2 separate regions of the Homo sapiens genome follow, and region 2 is linked to region 1. The links come from fine-mapping of genetic effects on gene expression. A gene starts in region 1. The other region holds a variant in brackets. All regions are shown on one strand. Distances are between the middles of the regions.

Region 1 (8,796 bases):
AGGCCTAATTTGTTGTCTTCTATTGTCCATCTCCAGATATTATAATAAAACCCTCCAGGAGCTGCCATTGCCCTATCTCAGTGTTAGAGCACTGACCAGCTTGCTTTTGCCTGAAGAATGACTCTTAGGTGATGACAAATTTAAGCATGCTTAAGATCCTTGCAGATTGCTGCAGTGCTTTTCCCTGCTGTTTAGGTTCATGTTTATGACATTTAACATGCTTTTATCATGCTGAAAGGAACCCAAGCTACTAAACTTGGAAAATAACCAAAATCACAGCATCGTAAAAAAGACTACATCAATAGTTTTCATTTCTGACACAGTATCCAAAAACTCTGATTAGAAAGGCTTCCAAATAAATAATTACTTCTTTGTGTTCTTGCCTTTAATACCAAATATAAGAAGTCACTAAATTTGTTTTTAAAATATTTTTCAGTGAAATAGAGGTTAATGCTATGAAAAATAGCAGTGTAAAATTCACAGTATCTGCCATAAATCACCAACCATCATCACGGACTCTGAAAAAGAAAATGATGGTTTTATACACAATGATATTTATATAATATCCTTCTTTTTTCCCAGTATAAAACTTCCAAGTGAGCATGCTCTCTGATTCCCAAATGTCTAGCTTATTTTCTACTCTACTGAACTTTCTGGACCTCTCCCTATCAGTAAACTTAGATGAAATAGTAGAGAACATGATAAAATTCTCTAGAACACTCATGTAAGAAGTTTCTTTAAAAAAAATCATTGCAACAAAATACGGCAAGAGAGTATTTTAACCATGGTTCTCAGAGTTTCAACGTAAAGAATAGCTGTTTCACATTTTTATTCCTTTAATGTTCGTGGCCAGAGATAAAACAAATTTTGCCACATATTCAGCAAAACATTTAAGATTGTGCTTTAAGTGCTGAATTAATAGCATGCATAGCAGTGTGTGTGTATATAAATATATAAAATGTGTGTGTGTGAGTAATTGGTCATCCTATCTTTCAAATAGATTAAAAAATTTAACTTCTAGTAGAAAATGATTTTTTAATTTATCAAACAAAAGAGGTTTAAGAGTTGGTAAAGCACCTTCTTGCGTCAGGGCCTCTGCGCTCACAGGTGCTTCTGTCTGGCCTGCTGTAAACTGCAAATACCTTCGTGGTTCATTCCCTTATGACCTTCAGATTCCTATTCTAATACTGTCTGTCCAGAGAGAACTTCCCTGATTATCCTTATGAGAATGGATACCACCTCCATTCTCAGGGATCCTATTATGCCTCCTGATTTATTTTTCTCCTAGCATTTATCATTATTTAACGTACCATATGTTTTGCTAAGCTACTTATTAATTTGTCTGTTTTCCTACACTAAAACGTAATTTTCAGGGCAGGAATTTCATCTATTTTGTTTACTTAAAAATAACCCCAGCATCTCAAACAGGGTCTGACATCTAAGAGATGCTCAATAAATATTCATTACATGAACTATATACACCGACTATATACAAGATACAGACCACCCTCTTTTGCATAATGATTACTAGAAAATTTATTTCAGCTTCCTATGTGGTGTATCATGGCTTGTTGAGATGTTAAATGGAACAATAGTAGTTTTCCAGTTGATTTATTTTTTGTTTATGAAATTTTAAAATGCTCCTTTAACATGATAAATTGCCTCTTGCAGACATCCATCATCATTAATATGTTGAGTGTGTGTGTGTGTGTGTGTGTGTGTGAGAGAGAGGCTCATGTCCTGATTCATAAAAATCTGTTTCTGTGTTTTTAACAAAAGCTATTAGTACCTACCAGTATAATATGTTTGTATTATTAACATGAAGGTGTTGGCCACAAACCACTTTTCTTTGGGAATCTTGGAATGAATTCAATGAACAGAAAAAGCAGGACTAACCTGATCTTCATTCTTACTGGCAGCATCTGGGATGAAAATATAGAAACCAAAGTTAAGGAAATGTAAAATATTTAATAAACAAAACAAATAATCCATTTAATGCAGCATCTTGATTGCTTTAATGACAATATGTTGTAAAACCGCAAATGGTTTTTGAACACATTAAGATTTATCATGGCAAATAAAAGAAGGGCACTGGACCAGGAGATTAGTATATATACTCACAAAGGTCTAATCACTCAGAAAGTTACAATTACTTTGGAAAATAATACTCATGTGAATTCTAACCCCATCAAAATAGCTTATCTTCAAAAGGTCCTTTCGGAGTAATAAATGCCAGCCTCCCTTTTAAAATTACAATATAACATACACACAAAATACTATACCAATTATAATTTTGAAACTATATTATAGTTGAAACTATAATATAGCATTACATTTATAGGATATATACATAAAATTTAATTTTCTGAATTCTGGCAGCTCTACCTCCTTATTACAGCTGCAAAAGTTAGAGATCTGACAGAAGGTAAGATTAAGGTCACAGGCTATTATACTCTCTCATTAACATAGGCTCTTTTGTACCTACACACCTATTTTAGGAAAATGGGCATTATTTGTATATGATTTCAGACTATCTATGAGTTTCTCTTTTTAAAAATTTTAATGTTTCAGAGCAACGTAAGTCTAGGCAATTTGTGTTCTCTTAGGGTTAAATAGCAAATATAAAAATCTACCTTCCAGCTCCCACAAAAGTCCCTCACTCTTTGGGAGAAATGCTTTCAACCCATTTAGCATTTGAAAACACAAGACTAAAATAAGCTAGAAGATACCACTGCTTTAAAATAAGAACAGATGATTGAATTTTAAAAAATATTTCATTTATACCTATAACATTAAAATACATATATTATTTACAATTAAGTTTTAAATGTCTATTACATATATAAGAATATGCATTATGAATTGATACATTTAGCAAGAGGAAGATGAAGAAGAATCTATTCAGTTTTCTGAATTAATAAAGAATTAATGGAAGAATTTCTCATGGTTAGAAAATTCAGATTATCTCAAACTACTTGCCATTTCTAAAGATAACAACATAATTATAAAGCCACATATATAAATCTTCAGAACTCTGTGTCTGGCAAGACATTTCAGGATTATACATGCATACGTAAACATTTTTTGGCAGGAGTAGGGGGAGAAAAGTCCCTTCCCCAGGGCTTTGAGATGTGTGGCAAGAGGCTTAGATTACACACAAATTGCTCACCTTGTATGAGGCAAAGAGCCAAGGGCAGAAGCACTGACACTGTGGCTATCTTCATGTTGAAGACGATGCAAGTCGCCTACAGGTCCACTCCATGCATTGCTCAGCTGGTGCAGTATGACTGAACTCGGGGCGATGCAGTTTACTTTTATAAAGCACTGGTGACACCCACATAAAACCAGTTGTTCAAGGTCATGGGACTTATATACCACACCACTTTAGCTTCCATCCTTTAGGATCCTGTCAGGGTGTCAGGTTTGAACAGAGAATATCTATTTCTAAAGTAGGAATGTTCTTTCATGGTACCTCCCCCAGAACGCAATTGATGGAGTCCACAGACCCTACTCAAAGTTGAATATTCTATAATCCTATATAATAACCGAATTCCTCAGAAATACCAGATATACTACCTCGTAGACAAACATGTTTCTGACTGGACTCCCTTCATAAGTGGGAGAGGAGAGGAAAGGAAGACAGATTGGTTGTCCTACCAGTCAGGTATAGATTTAAAGATTTCCACATCCAGAGAAATCCAGGGTTCCTGTTCTGAAGTGTCTGAGTTCAGTGTCACAGACTCATATATATGTTAGAGTTGAACGACCCTAAAAGATAACCTGGCAAAATTCTAATGTTGAATATATAGGGAGGCAGGAACTCAGAGGAGCAATGACTTTCTCATAAGCAGACAGTTTAGTTGGAGCAGGCAGAGGAGGCATCCAGCACTTGCAAGCAGACCACACATATAACATTCTTTCCTCTCTGTACACTGCTTCATCCTTAGACATTAGAAAAGGCAGGAACGTTGGAAAAATAAAACTTGTATGTAACTACTTTTAAAACTTCTCAATCTGCAGGATATTTTATATTCTGAAGCCTTATTTTATATCCTAGCCAAACATCATAATCATAAACATTGGAGACTCAGTTTAACTTTCCATAGCCTATGATTACCCATATTACCGTTTGAAAAATTTGGCTCAATCAGTTTTCTCTAAATCATATTTCTTCCTGTATCATCCCATTATTTAGTCTCCCAAAAAGAAAAGAAGAAAAAAGTTGTTAACAATTATAAATGTGTAAATGTAACATTTTTCTAGAGAAAGTTTCTTCTCTTTAGTTGCTTCTTTCATCCTACAAGTAACACCTTTTTTCTACCAGCTTATTTTGCCCTAATAGCTTAAGAAAGCACCTGAAGAAACATGTGAAGATGACTGAAACCAGAGCCAAATTGTTTCATTCCAGTACTTCTCAAGATATTCACATCCACAGAAGAAAAGTTCGAGACTTTATCCAATTAAAGGCCTTTTTATGATGGTTCCAGAAAACTGATCAAAGTTGCCCAACTTAGGGAGTATGCCAATATTATGAGATTTATCACAGTGAGATAATACGTCCTTTCTTTTTTCTCTCATGAAATAATTTATTTCCTATAAAAATATAATCACTGGGCCAGGCACAGTGTATCACGCCTGTAATCCCAGCACTTTGGGAGGCCAAGGCTGGCGGATCATGAGGTCAGGAGATCGAGACCATCCTGGCCAAGATGGTGAAACCCCATCTCTATTAAAATACAAAAATTAGATGGGCTTGGTGGTACGCACCTGTAGTCCCAGCTACTCTGGAGGCTGAGGCAGGGGAATTGCTTGAACCCGGGAGGCGGAGGGTGTGTGAGTTGAGATGGCGCCACTGCACTCCAGCCTCAGCGACAGAGCAAAACTCCATCAAAAAAAAAAAAGATATACACACACACACACACACACACACACACACACACATACATATATATACACACACATATATATATATATATAAAATCATTGGTTTCAAGGTCTGCACTATTGTTGTAGCTTGGCTCCTTTCCAATGGAATAGTAAAATTAGTGACCACGGAAAGCAAGTTCAAATTCCATTATTGTTACAGGTTAGAAAATCAAAGTCCATCATAGCTTAATGGAAAGAGAATGAGACAGGGTTTCAGAAATCTGTTTCTATTCTATGTAGTCTTTTCAACTATGTAGGGATAGAAATGAACCCAGCTTTGAAGCAAGCTAGAAATGGGTCCAAATCTTGAATTGTTAGCCATGTTGCCTTGGACAAGTCACTTATTTTCTCTAAGCCTCAGTTTCCTAATATGTAAAATAAAAATAATAACACGTACATTGTACTAGTGCTAAGAGGTTTAGAGATAAATCATATATATAATGCGTGTGTGTTTGTGTGTGTGTGAGAGAGAGAGGTGCTTAGAACAATTATCAAGTTTATGTGATAAGCTTGATAGTTAATGATAGCTGGTCTTGCATTTTTACATAATTATAATAACGTGGTTGTACTAGATAATTTCTAAGATACCAAGAAAAGTAAACATCTGTTGACTGTGGATTTCACCAATAGATTTATATTTACTCAGCATAGAAAAACTACCCCAACACAATTTGAGGTGAAATTAAACTATAACGATATATGTTCTCTTTTTCCCTTTTAATTGTATTTTAAACCATAATGCCTAAACAAATCGAAACATCACCTGTTAAAACTTAACGAAAACCATTGCTCTGTTTCAATCAGCATTGATTTCTTGTCTCTTTCTCTAAAAGCCTCTTCTAAATATTCACATATCAATACTAATTTTTTATCTTTCATCTGCCCTGTCAGACCATACGAAATGTGTCCCAACCATATATTCTGTTATTGACGGTAAAAGAGTTTGATGCCTTAAAATGGAATCAATGACTGTGTATTATGCTCTAGTGACCCCTAGCCTAGCCCAAATGGAGAATATTCCCAGGAGTGGAAGTGGTGCTAGGGTGGAACAGAAGAACCAAAAGATGATTGCCTGTCTTAGGAATCTCTACTATGAGGAAACATTGAAGACATTGGTTTCCTTCTTACTGGAAAAGAGCTCCTCAGAGATGCCAGCCTTTTCTGAAATGATGAATAAAAAGTTTGAAACTGATATCTTTTCCAAATGGAGAAAGTAGTAAAAAGAAGATTCAGTGAGCACCCCCAAAATTGGAAGTACTCATCAGCTGGCTCATTTCATTAGGGCTTCTTCTCCATTTCATTTTAGGAATGTTGTAAAGCCAGAGGTGATTCATCACATGCTCTGTTAATTACTCCTCATTCCTGAAAATCACCATGAATATTACATTTAAATGAATGGGATTGAAGGTTTGGAGAACTCAGGTTTGGGTCAGAGTTAGGTTATCAAGGTATTCTTCTAACTCAAAATATCATCCTTGTTTTTAACTCTTTCAATTATTCATCAAACATGTAGAAACTTTTTTCCTCTCATTAGAAATGAGTGGGCTTAGATAATAAAAACTATGAATTTTACAACCTTACGCATTTATGAGGTTGGCAGAATCTGAAGGATACTGATACAGGGGGAGGAAATGAGAAAATTATAAAGATTGTTGTAGATCAGTAATGTTACTACAAACAAAGGTTATTTCCAAAATATAAAGTTACCATATCATTCCTAAAGTCTTCTGTTTTTCTACACAGAGGGAGCCTTGATGACGATAATAGTTAATAAATAACTATAGTCTTTTATGATTAGATCACCTTCCACAGCTTTCAAAACAACCTGCCATTCATTAGCTCTTTTGATTTGTTTATGCAGTGTTGTGAGGCAGCCAATTAGGTGTTATTATCTTTTCTTTACCAGCCAAAATTGGTGTCATAAAAGAAACCTGCAGTAGGAACTAGCTGGGATGGTCATCTCAGCCTTGACACTTTCTTACATTTTATACCTTTAATTTCTCTGAGTTTCCCCACGGCCATCTCACAGACTTTTATACCGTTCAAAGAGAATCCAGATCGAGACCATCCTGGCTAACATGGTGAAACCCCGTCTCCACTAAAAATCCGAAAACATAAAAATTAGCCGGGCGTGGCAGAGGGCGCCTGTAGTCCCAGCTACTCCGGAGGCTGAGGCAGGAGAATGGCGTGAACCCGGGAGGCGGAGCTTGCAGTGAGCCGAGATCGCGCCACTTCACTCCAGCCTGGGAGACAGCGAGACTCCATCTCAAAAAAAAAAAGAGAATCCAGACGTTACAGTGCTTTAAACTAGATACAGCCCTATGCATGCACACACACACAGACACACATACACAATCACTTGGGCAAAAAGAGGTATGTTGTGACCATGAGTAAAATTTATATATTCTAATATATCTTAAAAGATGAAATAATTTCTTTTTTATTTTTTTATTTTCTTTTCTATAATTCTAATATTTTCCCCCATCAATCTAACATGTCTATATTCTCCTGTTTGTTTGTTTGTTTTGAGGCGGAATCTCACTCTGTCCCCCAGGCTGGAGTGTAGTGGTGCAATTTCGGCTTACTGCAAGCTCCGCCTCCAGCGTTCATGCCATTCTCCTGCCTCAGCCTCCCGGAATAGCTGGGACTACAGGCGCCCACCACCGTGCCTGGCTAATTTTTTTTTTTTTTTTTTTTTTTTTGTATTTTTAGGAGAGACAGGGTTTCACCGTGTTAGCCAGGATGGTCTCGTATCTCCTGAACTCGTGATCCACCCGCCTTGGCCTTCCAAACTGCTGGGATTACAGGCATGAGCCACCGCGCCCGGCCTATATTCTCCTTTGTAAAAGACACTAACTGGAAAACAGCCTTTACTCATCTTCTTATCTGGTAATGTTGCATTACCAACTAACTTCACTCTCTCTGTAGGAATTCCTTTCTGTTTGTCTGGAAAGACTAAGAAACTAGAGATAAGCCTCTCATTTTATCTAATAATAGAATGGGATGGGCATTGTTTGTTTACTGAGTATATAGACCCTGCTATTTACAGACATAATTACTGCTTTTATTAGATTAGGATTAAGAAGACAGGAATTTCAATGTCTAATTTTTAATTGTATTAATATTTTCATATGGGTTATATTTTATTTTAGAAACAACAATCAGCTTCTCCCTATAGCTGATATTACTTGAACCCCTGACCCATGGCCCCACACTGTTTATCACTCAAAAATTTAGTGCATTTTAAAGTCTCCTAGGATTTATCCTGACAATAGAAAACAGAGGTTTGAGGAGCTACAGTCTTTCAATAAATCATAACAAATTAATCCTGAAGTACCTAAGAGTCTACCGGCCGGATGTGGTGGCTCACGCCTGTAATCCCAGCACTTTGGGAGGCCGAGATGGGCGGATCACGAGGTCAGGAGATTGAGACCACCCTGGCTAACACGGTGAAACCCCGTCTCTACTAAAAATACAAAAAAATTAGCCAGGCACGGTGGCGGGTGTCTTTAGCCCCAGCTACACGGGAGGCTGAGGCAGGAGAATGGCGTGAACCTGGGAGGCGGAGCTTGCAGTCAGCTGAGATCACTTCACTGCACTCCCGCCTGGGCGACAGAGCAAGACTCTTTCTCAAAAAAAAAAAAAAAAGTCTACCTAATTTTAGCAAAAAAGCATTGCAAATTTTATATGTGTAATATGTGTGTGTGTGTGTGTGTGTGTTTACAGTAGGGAAGAATGAAACTGTTAGATTTATAGCAAAGTTAGAAAAAGATTATCTTTACAAAATAATTTGTAGGCCGGGCACCGTGGCTCACTCCTGTAATCCCAGCACTTTGGGAGGCCGAGGCAGGCAGATCACGAGGTCAGGAG
Region 2 (8,796 bases), 33 kb before region 1:
AAAATTAGGAGACTTTTATCATCAAAACCATTGGTGATGATAACTGAGCTAAGGCTTTGGAAACTAATATTGTAATATTTCAGGGATAAAAATCATGCGTTGGTGGGGGAATCAAGGTATTTTTTATCTCAAATTAGATGTGAAATATCAGAAACTCATATGTAGAAAGCATACATGTAGAATTTCTCTGGAAAGTAGTTAGCAAAAGCTAACAGTCTATAAGTGATAAAACTAGAAGTAGAACTCAGTTTTTCAGCTTTTAAACAATTTTTTTTTTTTTTTTTTGCAGAGTTAGTTTTTAATCAGCAAGAATGGATCAATCTTCCCATATAATTCATCTCAATACCATCCCCAGATTGAAGAGTTAAGATATTCTGGGGATTTCTGCAGGGCAAAATCTCACCCTTTAGGCTCTTAAAATTTGTTCAAATTATAGCACCAAATAGGATTTATTGGATGGATTCCACTCACTGCATATGAGGTTGCTTTTCCAGATTCTCTTTTGTTTCTAGCTCGTGCTTCAGCCTTTTTCTTTTCTTCATTTTCTGCTTGGCTGAATAAGAGGGAAAAAGAAGCAGATCCATTAGGAACAAACACATGCCATGATTTCTCCACATCCTTGCACTGTTAACTGTTCTCCCTCCTTAGAGTGGAACAATTTTGTCCCTTTATCACTGCATATCAATGAGAAGCAACAAAATATCCTCCAGGATAGTATGGTGCTATGATTTCTTCATAATGTCTGTTTAATGTTGAAAGAAAGACGGCAATAGTGGATCTGGGATACTTGCTTTCTGTAAATTAGTTTTCTTGCCCATAGTAAGAAAAGGAGCATGATCAATGTTCATAACAGAGGCACCAAAACTAAAATCATGGTGGCATAACCTGAAGGCTGAAAGTGGCCTTAACAAAGCACATCTACTCATCCCCTTGTTAATCAGAGAAGATGAGAGGTAGAGGGGGTCTTTGCTACATCTCAGGATATGACTACAACCAAGGTCTCCTCCCTCAAGACCATGGTCTATCTATCACACCATGTGTACCCTAGCTTTGCTTTAAACTTAAATATTTTGCTTACTCATAGCTGTTTCATCTAAAGGACAAGATGTGAAAAAAAAAACCACAATAATTTCCATATACTGATAAAACAAATAAGCCTAAATTTGCTTTGTACAATGGAATTGCACAGTATGTACAGTTAACTGATGATATTTCAACCATATGTAGTTGTCAATCAAAACAAAGAAAGCCATAGATTCTAAATATAAGTTAAATACTTAATTTGAGCTCAGCCAAATAAAGAGCTATCGTAAATCTTGAAAGAAAACTGTCCATTCTAACTTATTGAGAAATATTGCATTACATAAAATAATACCCATTGTAATTTTATAGGAGTTTAGTGTTGTTTCATGGGAATTTTGACTTTATTCCATTTCTACATTAAGCATCACCTTTGGACTCTTAACTCCCATGGAAGATGAGATACCTATAAATTGCTAAAACAGGCTAACGTGTGAAGTTTCAGGAGTAAGGGGGCATCTACTATTTGTACAAGTTCATGTTTGTCAGGACATTCCAGTGCTAAAAGAGGGAGTGTCAGAGGAACAAGGCGTCTTAAAACAAATAACTCTAGGTACTTACTCCCAGCTCTATCACTGATATTTTCCATGTAATGTTTTCAACTCACTTCCCTGTCTTGAGCCACAGTCTCCCCATCTATGAAAGAAGCTGTTTCTATTAAATTACCTGCAAGATCCCTTCTTTCTTTGACATTCTAAAACTCTATACTCACAAGTAGGCTTGACACATGGAACACAAGTTGCCATGCATTTTCCCATCTGGACCACGAATAGGGTCATTTTCTCTGGTACAGAAAAGTATTCCATTCTTTGCCTGATTTTGATATTGACTGCAGAGTTTCTGAATAATGAATAAGAAAAAGTTGAGATATAGTTCTGTTTTCTATGTATGAATGTTAAATGTTATTTTACAAAGAAAAAAGAGAAATTAAGGATGAAAAATAAAACTTTTAAGATTTAGGACCATCCAAAAATTGTGATATTTCTCTCCTTGTAATATCCATTTACATTTTCAACGAATGCTTAAGTTAGGAATATATAAATAGAAATATGATTTATTTATATTTATGTTCTTTATCAGTCAAATGGAAAAGATAAGTAATTGCAATATAAAAAGCTAAGAAATATAACACTAGTCTGAATTAAGTGTGTACAAGTACAATGAAAAGAATAATTCATGGAAGTTCAGGGAACTTATGTCTAAGTTCTATCTTGAGAATATATTCAGGAACATAATGTGGAAAAAGGCCATCCAAGAGGAATTAAATGGACAAACACACAGGGGTGTGAAAGAACATGCTATTTTGAGGTAATCTAACATATTTATGAATATAGTGGCTAAATAATTAGTTGGATAAAGAGAATAATATTTGGGAAATGGTCAAAAGGAGACCTTGAAAATCAAAGACCACTAAACTTTGAAAGGAATTTGGATATTACTTTTAGGCAATGGGAAAATTATAAATGTTTATAGCAGAAAATGGCAAAATCAAATCTTTGTTTTACAAAGGTTATCAACCAGATGTGTGGAGGATTTGATTAACTAGGGACTGAAGTTAGAACAGTAATTATATTATTAAAAAAGAGAGAAAGAGAGGGAGGAAAAGAGAAAAAAGAATAGAGAGAAGAAAAAGAAAAAGGAGAAAGGAAAGGAAGAAAGGGAAGGAAGGAGAAAAATTGGAAATAAATGATAAAATAGTAGTTGACAGATATTTGAATATCAAAATTAAAAGGACTTGGTAACCTAGGACTGAGGGGAAGAAAGCAGTTCAAAATGAGGCTTAAGCTATGTGTAGTGGCTCATGCCTGTAATCTTAGCACTTTGGAAAGCTGAGGTGTGAGGATAGCTTGAGAGTGGGAAGTCAAGGCTGCAGTGAGCCATGATCCCACCACTACACTCCAGCCTGGGTGACAGAGAAAAAAAAGAAAGAAAGAAATTGTCTTAAAAAAAAAAAGAAAAGAAAAGAAAAAGAAAAAGAAAAAAAGAAAGAAAGAAAGAAAATGGAGTTATACTGGCAGAGGGTGGCCTGATGGAGTGGCTTACTTAGGAGAACTGTTGACTGCACATCATAGAAGTCTGGAAAACTGTCTGTAAGAAATAAGTTAGGGTTTCTATAAGAAGTGAAATGGTCTGAATATACTCTAGAATATCTTCAAACATTGGAATTTTATAGCATCGCTGACTCGTGGAACCATAGTTTTTGTTCTCATATTCTATGACATATGAAAACAACATGGAGGATGAATTAAATCTTGAAGATTGAGAAAGATGGAGACCAACAGTGTACAAACCAGGTACAATGCCAATACGTCAATGCAAAAGAAAACTATTAAGTGTCTGAGCTAAGAGGGTAGCAGTAGAAAAACAGACAGGTGACTAGTTAAAAGATACTTAGAAAGCAGAGAACAGTATAATTTAAAAGGAAGCACATTAAAATTCAACATTGATATTGTTTTTGAAGTAAATACCTTCACAATAGCTACCACACATCGAAGACTACATATCACACTTTGAATTCAGACAATGTTTTGATATTTCACCTTCATTTAGGAGTGCAAAACTACATTATTAATGTGACTTGATTAATTGCCTCCATATACAGCTAGAAATTGTAATGCCATAATTTTTTAATCTAAGTTTCACAAAATAATAACTAGAAATTAGTTTCCAGCAAACCTACTAGTAGTGTGGAAAATATTAAACAATATTGAAAGTGCATACTATGTAATATGCACTCTCTCACACACGCACCCCCCCACACACACACAAGTTGTAACTAGATTGATCAAACTGATTCTCACCACAATTTCTCTTTTAACTTTAGTTTTTTCTTCAGCTTTTCCCAAATTTTGATCTGTTTTACTGTTTTCCTCTGAAAAACGCTGCTTGCTGGAAAAAGTAAAATAAATGAGTAGAGATGCTTCCGATCTTCATGTTACAAAACAGTCATTAGGTATAGATGGAAAAATATCTAAGTTGTCCTGAGTTTTAGTACAAACACTTTAAAAACACCTCAAATCCCCAAAAAGACCCTTTAATTTCACCTTTATACCATTTACTTCCACTAAAATGATCTTTTTTCTCATCTCCCTTTCTTAAAAGAAATTTAAAACTCTGCAGCTTAAATTCTACCTTTTTGAAGAAGACATTCCAGTTCCCAAATACAAATGAGCGCTATGTCTATTGCTGTGTTTTTGTATCGAATAGTCTTCTCTTATACAGCAGTTTTTATTCTATTTTGCAATATATAAATATGTGCACATGTCCATGGCTTATTTCTGCTACTGAACTTAAGCTTCTTGAGAGTGGGAGATCTTCATTCATATCTTCATTCATTCATTTAGTGAGTAATTATGGTTTTTTGGGCAAGTGTTGGCTGGGCCCTGGGCATGCAGGAGTATATAATACAAACACATACCCTGCCCTCTTGTAGTTCTTGAGGCTGGTAGAAAAGACTGAAAGTCAACAAAAACTTGGAGAAATAATTGTATAATTGCCAACTGTGATGGTGGTTAGAAAAGACAATTACTAAGGATTATGAGAATTTAATTTCAATTAGGGAAGGACTTTAGGAGTTCTTGTCCAAGGAAAGATAATCTGAAATGTAATCTACAAGAGGAGGGGACATCATCTGGCCAAGAC[C/T]GGGAGGAACTGGCATAGGACAGGACACAGGAAAGGGCTTGTAGAGCTAGAGAAGCCGAAAGTGTCATGAGATGTCATCTAAGACATTTTCATAAATGTGATAATTTGTATGTTGTGAGATTTGCCCTTCTCCCAAGGTCATATGTCCCAGATAAAAAGATAAGAGTAATCCAATTAATGTATAAACCTGAAGTATCTGAGAGTGTTGCATCAACACTGTTACCATGGGATAATTACTGAAGAAAAACAATCGAAGTCGTGGTACCTGCTTTTACCCCCATTCTATACTAGAATTAGTTCACAAACAGTTTCACATAGGTCACAGTCACAGGGGAATGTTAAGAAGTGTGCTATGCTGTAAGTCAATATTTCAACTGGAAAATGGAATCCATTTCTCTTCAGAAATAGACAAACATCAGTAGTGCCTGCTCACTAGGTGGCATTATGATTTGTGGAGGGCATAAAACTGCTCAGATGGTTCTCAACAACAAAGCTTCCTTTCAAAGTTATTTTTACTCATCAATCCAATCAATCTCCACTCCCACCCTTTGAATCACTCTGAAAAAACCACTTCTATACTCACAAAATTTCAGCACACAGGGCACATTTGTTGCCATGCATCCTGCCGTCAGGGCCACGGACTGGATCACTCTCCCGTGTACAAAAAAGCCTTCCATTTCTCACTTGTTTTTCATATTCCTTGCAAAAATCCTTTGAAAAGACAATTATATTTATTTTACTTCATTTCATTTCAGGATATTTTATTTTTTGAGACAGGATTTTGCTGCATTGCGCAGGGTGGATTGCAGGGGAATGATCATAGCTCAGTGAAGCCTCTAACCTCTAGGCTCAGAGATCCTTCCACCTCAGCTTCCTAACTAAATGGGACTACAGACATGCACCACCACACCCGGCTAAATTTTTTCCTTTTTGGTAGAGACTGGATCTCATCATGTTGCCCGGGCTGGTCTTGAATTCCTTGGCTCAAGTAATCTTCCTGCCTTGGCCTCCCAAAGTGTTGAAATTATAGGCATGAACCAACACATCCAGCCAACAAGTAATTTTATTTACCATTTTTCTACGTTTTAATCTGGAAACTTTATAATAGATTTATTACCACAAAACATCAGGTCTAGAAGTTGGCAAATACATACAACATATTAATGAGGATTACTAAGAAACAGTAATTATATTGTCAACTACTTGGCACTTGTATCTGTTATGTGGTAGGTTTATTAAAAGATAAAAAACAGCCTCGGAAAAAATAAGGCTGACCAAGAGTTTTCTTGGATTAAAACTAGGTATTTCTTTTTAACTTTCAGATCAATAGGGGTCAGGGGATATCTTTCATGAGGTTCCAGCACAAACACAACAAAATGCAGCAGCCAAATCACAAAAAAAAAAAGAAAAAAAAGTTGTGAGAAGATGAGATGTCTAAAAGTGACTTAATATGGATCAAGTCAAGAATAATCCAGCTAAGTTTGTAAGTATAAAGAAACAAGATGTTATCCAACAGTGTTATGCTTACTTTAGTTGATTTTCTCTATGGATCTGTGGATAATTTTTGTGTATTCTGCCTTCTTTATCCATAATAATTTCTGACATTGTAGAGAGAGAGTAGATCTAATTTCCTTTCACCCTCACCTTAGACAGATAGATCATCAAGACTGATACTCATTTAGAAAAGCTAAAAAGGAGTGACTTCCCCCCACCAAAAAAAATCCAAGAAAGATTTGTTTTCAGATTTCCTGATGCTTTGGTTCAATACTTTCAGGCTACTTTCTGTGTTTTGAAAACTCTACTATGTGAGGAGGGCTAAACTTTACCAAAAAAATGATACTCTAAGCTACTCTAGGCTTGGGGATCTCTATGTCATTAAACATTTTGTGGTGAGATATAGTACTATAATATGACCTACAAAAAATCCTGGTCTATAACTTTCTTTTCAACTGTGTGACCTTCGTCATTCAATTTCAGGCAAGAAAACATGGGCATAAAGAGCATGGCTAGGAGTCAAATGACCTGGGCCACTAGATTGTCCCTCTCACCCAAATGGGAGACCACAGCAAAGTCCCTTCTCCTTTGGAACCACAGTTACTACTTCTACAATGAGGTTTTTGGAACAGATGCTCTGTAGGACCTTTTCTAGATCTAGCATTCTTTGGTTTTTTAAAAAATAATTCAAATTCCATTGGGATGCTTTAACAGAGAATCCTAACTGCTTCCTATTAAGAAGATATTTATTTTTGGAGGAGCAATGGATGTGCTCCAAACCTCATGGTTGTAACAACCTAGAAATAGAGAAGCAGAAGACAGTCACCTGATAATCATAGCATGGTATAAAAAATTAATGCTCAATGATTCTCGTAAAAGAAACAATGATAATTTCAGTTTATAAGTTGTGATTCAGCCAAGGAGATTCTGAAGAAACACTGTGTTTGCAACCTAGTGACAAGTTAATTATAGGGAACATATTGAGCCATCACAATAAAGCAGTCCTATTCACACCATCATGCCCGGTGACCCCACCAAAACAATGACCCTAGCCACAGAGAGGAAGAGGGAAGTACAGAGACCTAATGAAAAACAAAGGAAAATAACTCTCTGTGTTTATGAAGTAATAAAATGTTAACTATCACAGGATGACCCAAAGTTTTAGACTGAAATTTAACAACCACCACAAAAGAATTCCTTTTCAATCCTTGGCAAGTGTTGCATAAACTGTAGATGGTTCTGAATACTTAGTTTTCCTAAATGTAAACCTTCAATACCCTATTTAGGTTGAGAGCTTTGCTTCATTAAATAAGCATTACGAACTGAAGGGCTAGCTCTTGACTACCAAAAGGTGGGCTTGTTTCTTCCTTTAGGAAAACATAAGCCCTACGATCTGCAAAAAGGAGTGCACTTGTATTAGTACAAAAGTGTGCAGGATGTAGAATCACAGTCCAACAGGAAGGTAAAATTCAGGTCATTATCCAACCTCTTTACTTTGCTGACAAGAAAATTAAGGCCCAGGATGATTATTTACTTAGTCTCCCACACCCAGAGCATGGCAAAACCAAGGCTAAAACTCAGGCGTTCTGACTTCTCAACAAAAGGTTAGCCATTTAGCAAAGAAACTGCTATCCCTCTCATTGAAAGTAGGTGATTTAAGAAATCCAGGCTGCATTACCTAAAGTGCTTATTCAAAACTTTTTATACTAGATTGAATAATTAAATTATCAAGTAATTTCAAAAAAATAATTTTAAGGATTTTTTTAAAACACATTCTAAAAATTTGTCTTTTTTTTTTTTTAAAGCAGAATCAAGACCTTTATAAATGCAGGTTTTTCTGAACAGAATAATCACAATGGCAAAGTGAATAACTTCAACTTGTGTCAATTTAATTGCACATAAAATGCACTAGTGGATATAGTGTTTAAAACACTCTCACTATTTTAAAATTATTCCTGTTTAATTTATATTTCATTGCCAATTTTAAACAATTTATACAGAGTAAAATGGGTTTACACTAAACCAAAAAGAAGGCTGCTAGAAATTAAGCAGAATTTGGTTTATACAAACTTTCTATCTTATATCTTCTTTTGGGGGCTAGAGGACTGGAGAAACACAGGTGGAAACTGCACATTTTGGGCCTTAGGTAGGAAATGCTGTTTTAAATCTGAATCTAATGATTAATATTCTAGGAATAGTCAATTTGGGGAATTTTGATATTAAGAAAAATATCTATATAATAATAAAAGACAATGACTTTATTTCATTACTCAAAGGTTTAGGCATACATTTGTTAATAAATATGGCCACAAGAACAAAATTGCGTTGGTGAGTCATTTTACCTTTTCAGCATTTCGTCGAATTCTAGTTTCACCCTCTCGCTTGGCATTTTCAGCTTCTTTTAAACTGTTAAGAAAAGTAAACAGTTGGTCAGTTTATGACTCAATCATATTTTCAGTATCCTCAGTCCTGTGCTAAACACTTTCATATCCTCTGCTACGAATTGCTGAAAATGATCCTCTTACAAGAGACAAGCATTTCCGTCTTCAATGCCTGAGCCAGAGAAATTGCCAAAGATAA

Alleles and levels. Positions count from the first base shown, and alleles are read on the strand shown. Sizes are in standard deviations (SD) of each study's normalised expression.
For the expression in ileum of the gene that starts at base 3,289 in region 1, C is the high allele of the variant in region 2 and T is the other (large effect, 0.86 SD a copy in GTEx).

Evidence for each region. PIP is the estimated chance that this variant, and not a neighbour inherited with it, causes the effect.
Region 2: its variant is fine-mapped to the expression of SPINK5 in ileum (GTEx, PIP 0.97).

Annotation. Positions count from the first base shown.
Region 1 is chr5:148,058,473-148,067,268 of GRCh38, reverse strand. It overlaps SPINK5 (serine peptidase inhibitor Kazal type 5), which reads right to left and starts at 3,289. Exons shown (of 33, transcript NM_006846.4): 1 at 3,170-3,289; 2 at 1,897-1,922. The coding sequence starts at 3,224.
Region 2 is chr5:148,090,991-148,099,786 of GRCh38, reverse strand. It overlaps SPINK5 (serine peptidase inhibitor Kazal type 5), which reads right to left. Exons shown (of 33, transcript NM_006846.4): 8 at 8,559-8,622; 9 at 5,306-5,433; 10 at 3,882-3,969; 11 at 1,793-1,920; 12 at 472-553. LOC124901185 (a long non-coding RNA gene) reads left to right here and starts at 6,045. Exons shown (of 3, transcript XR_007059139.1): 1 at 6,045-6,205. The variant C/T (reference allele first, on the strand shown) is at 4,723.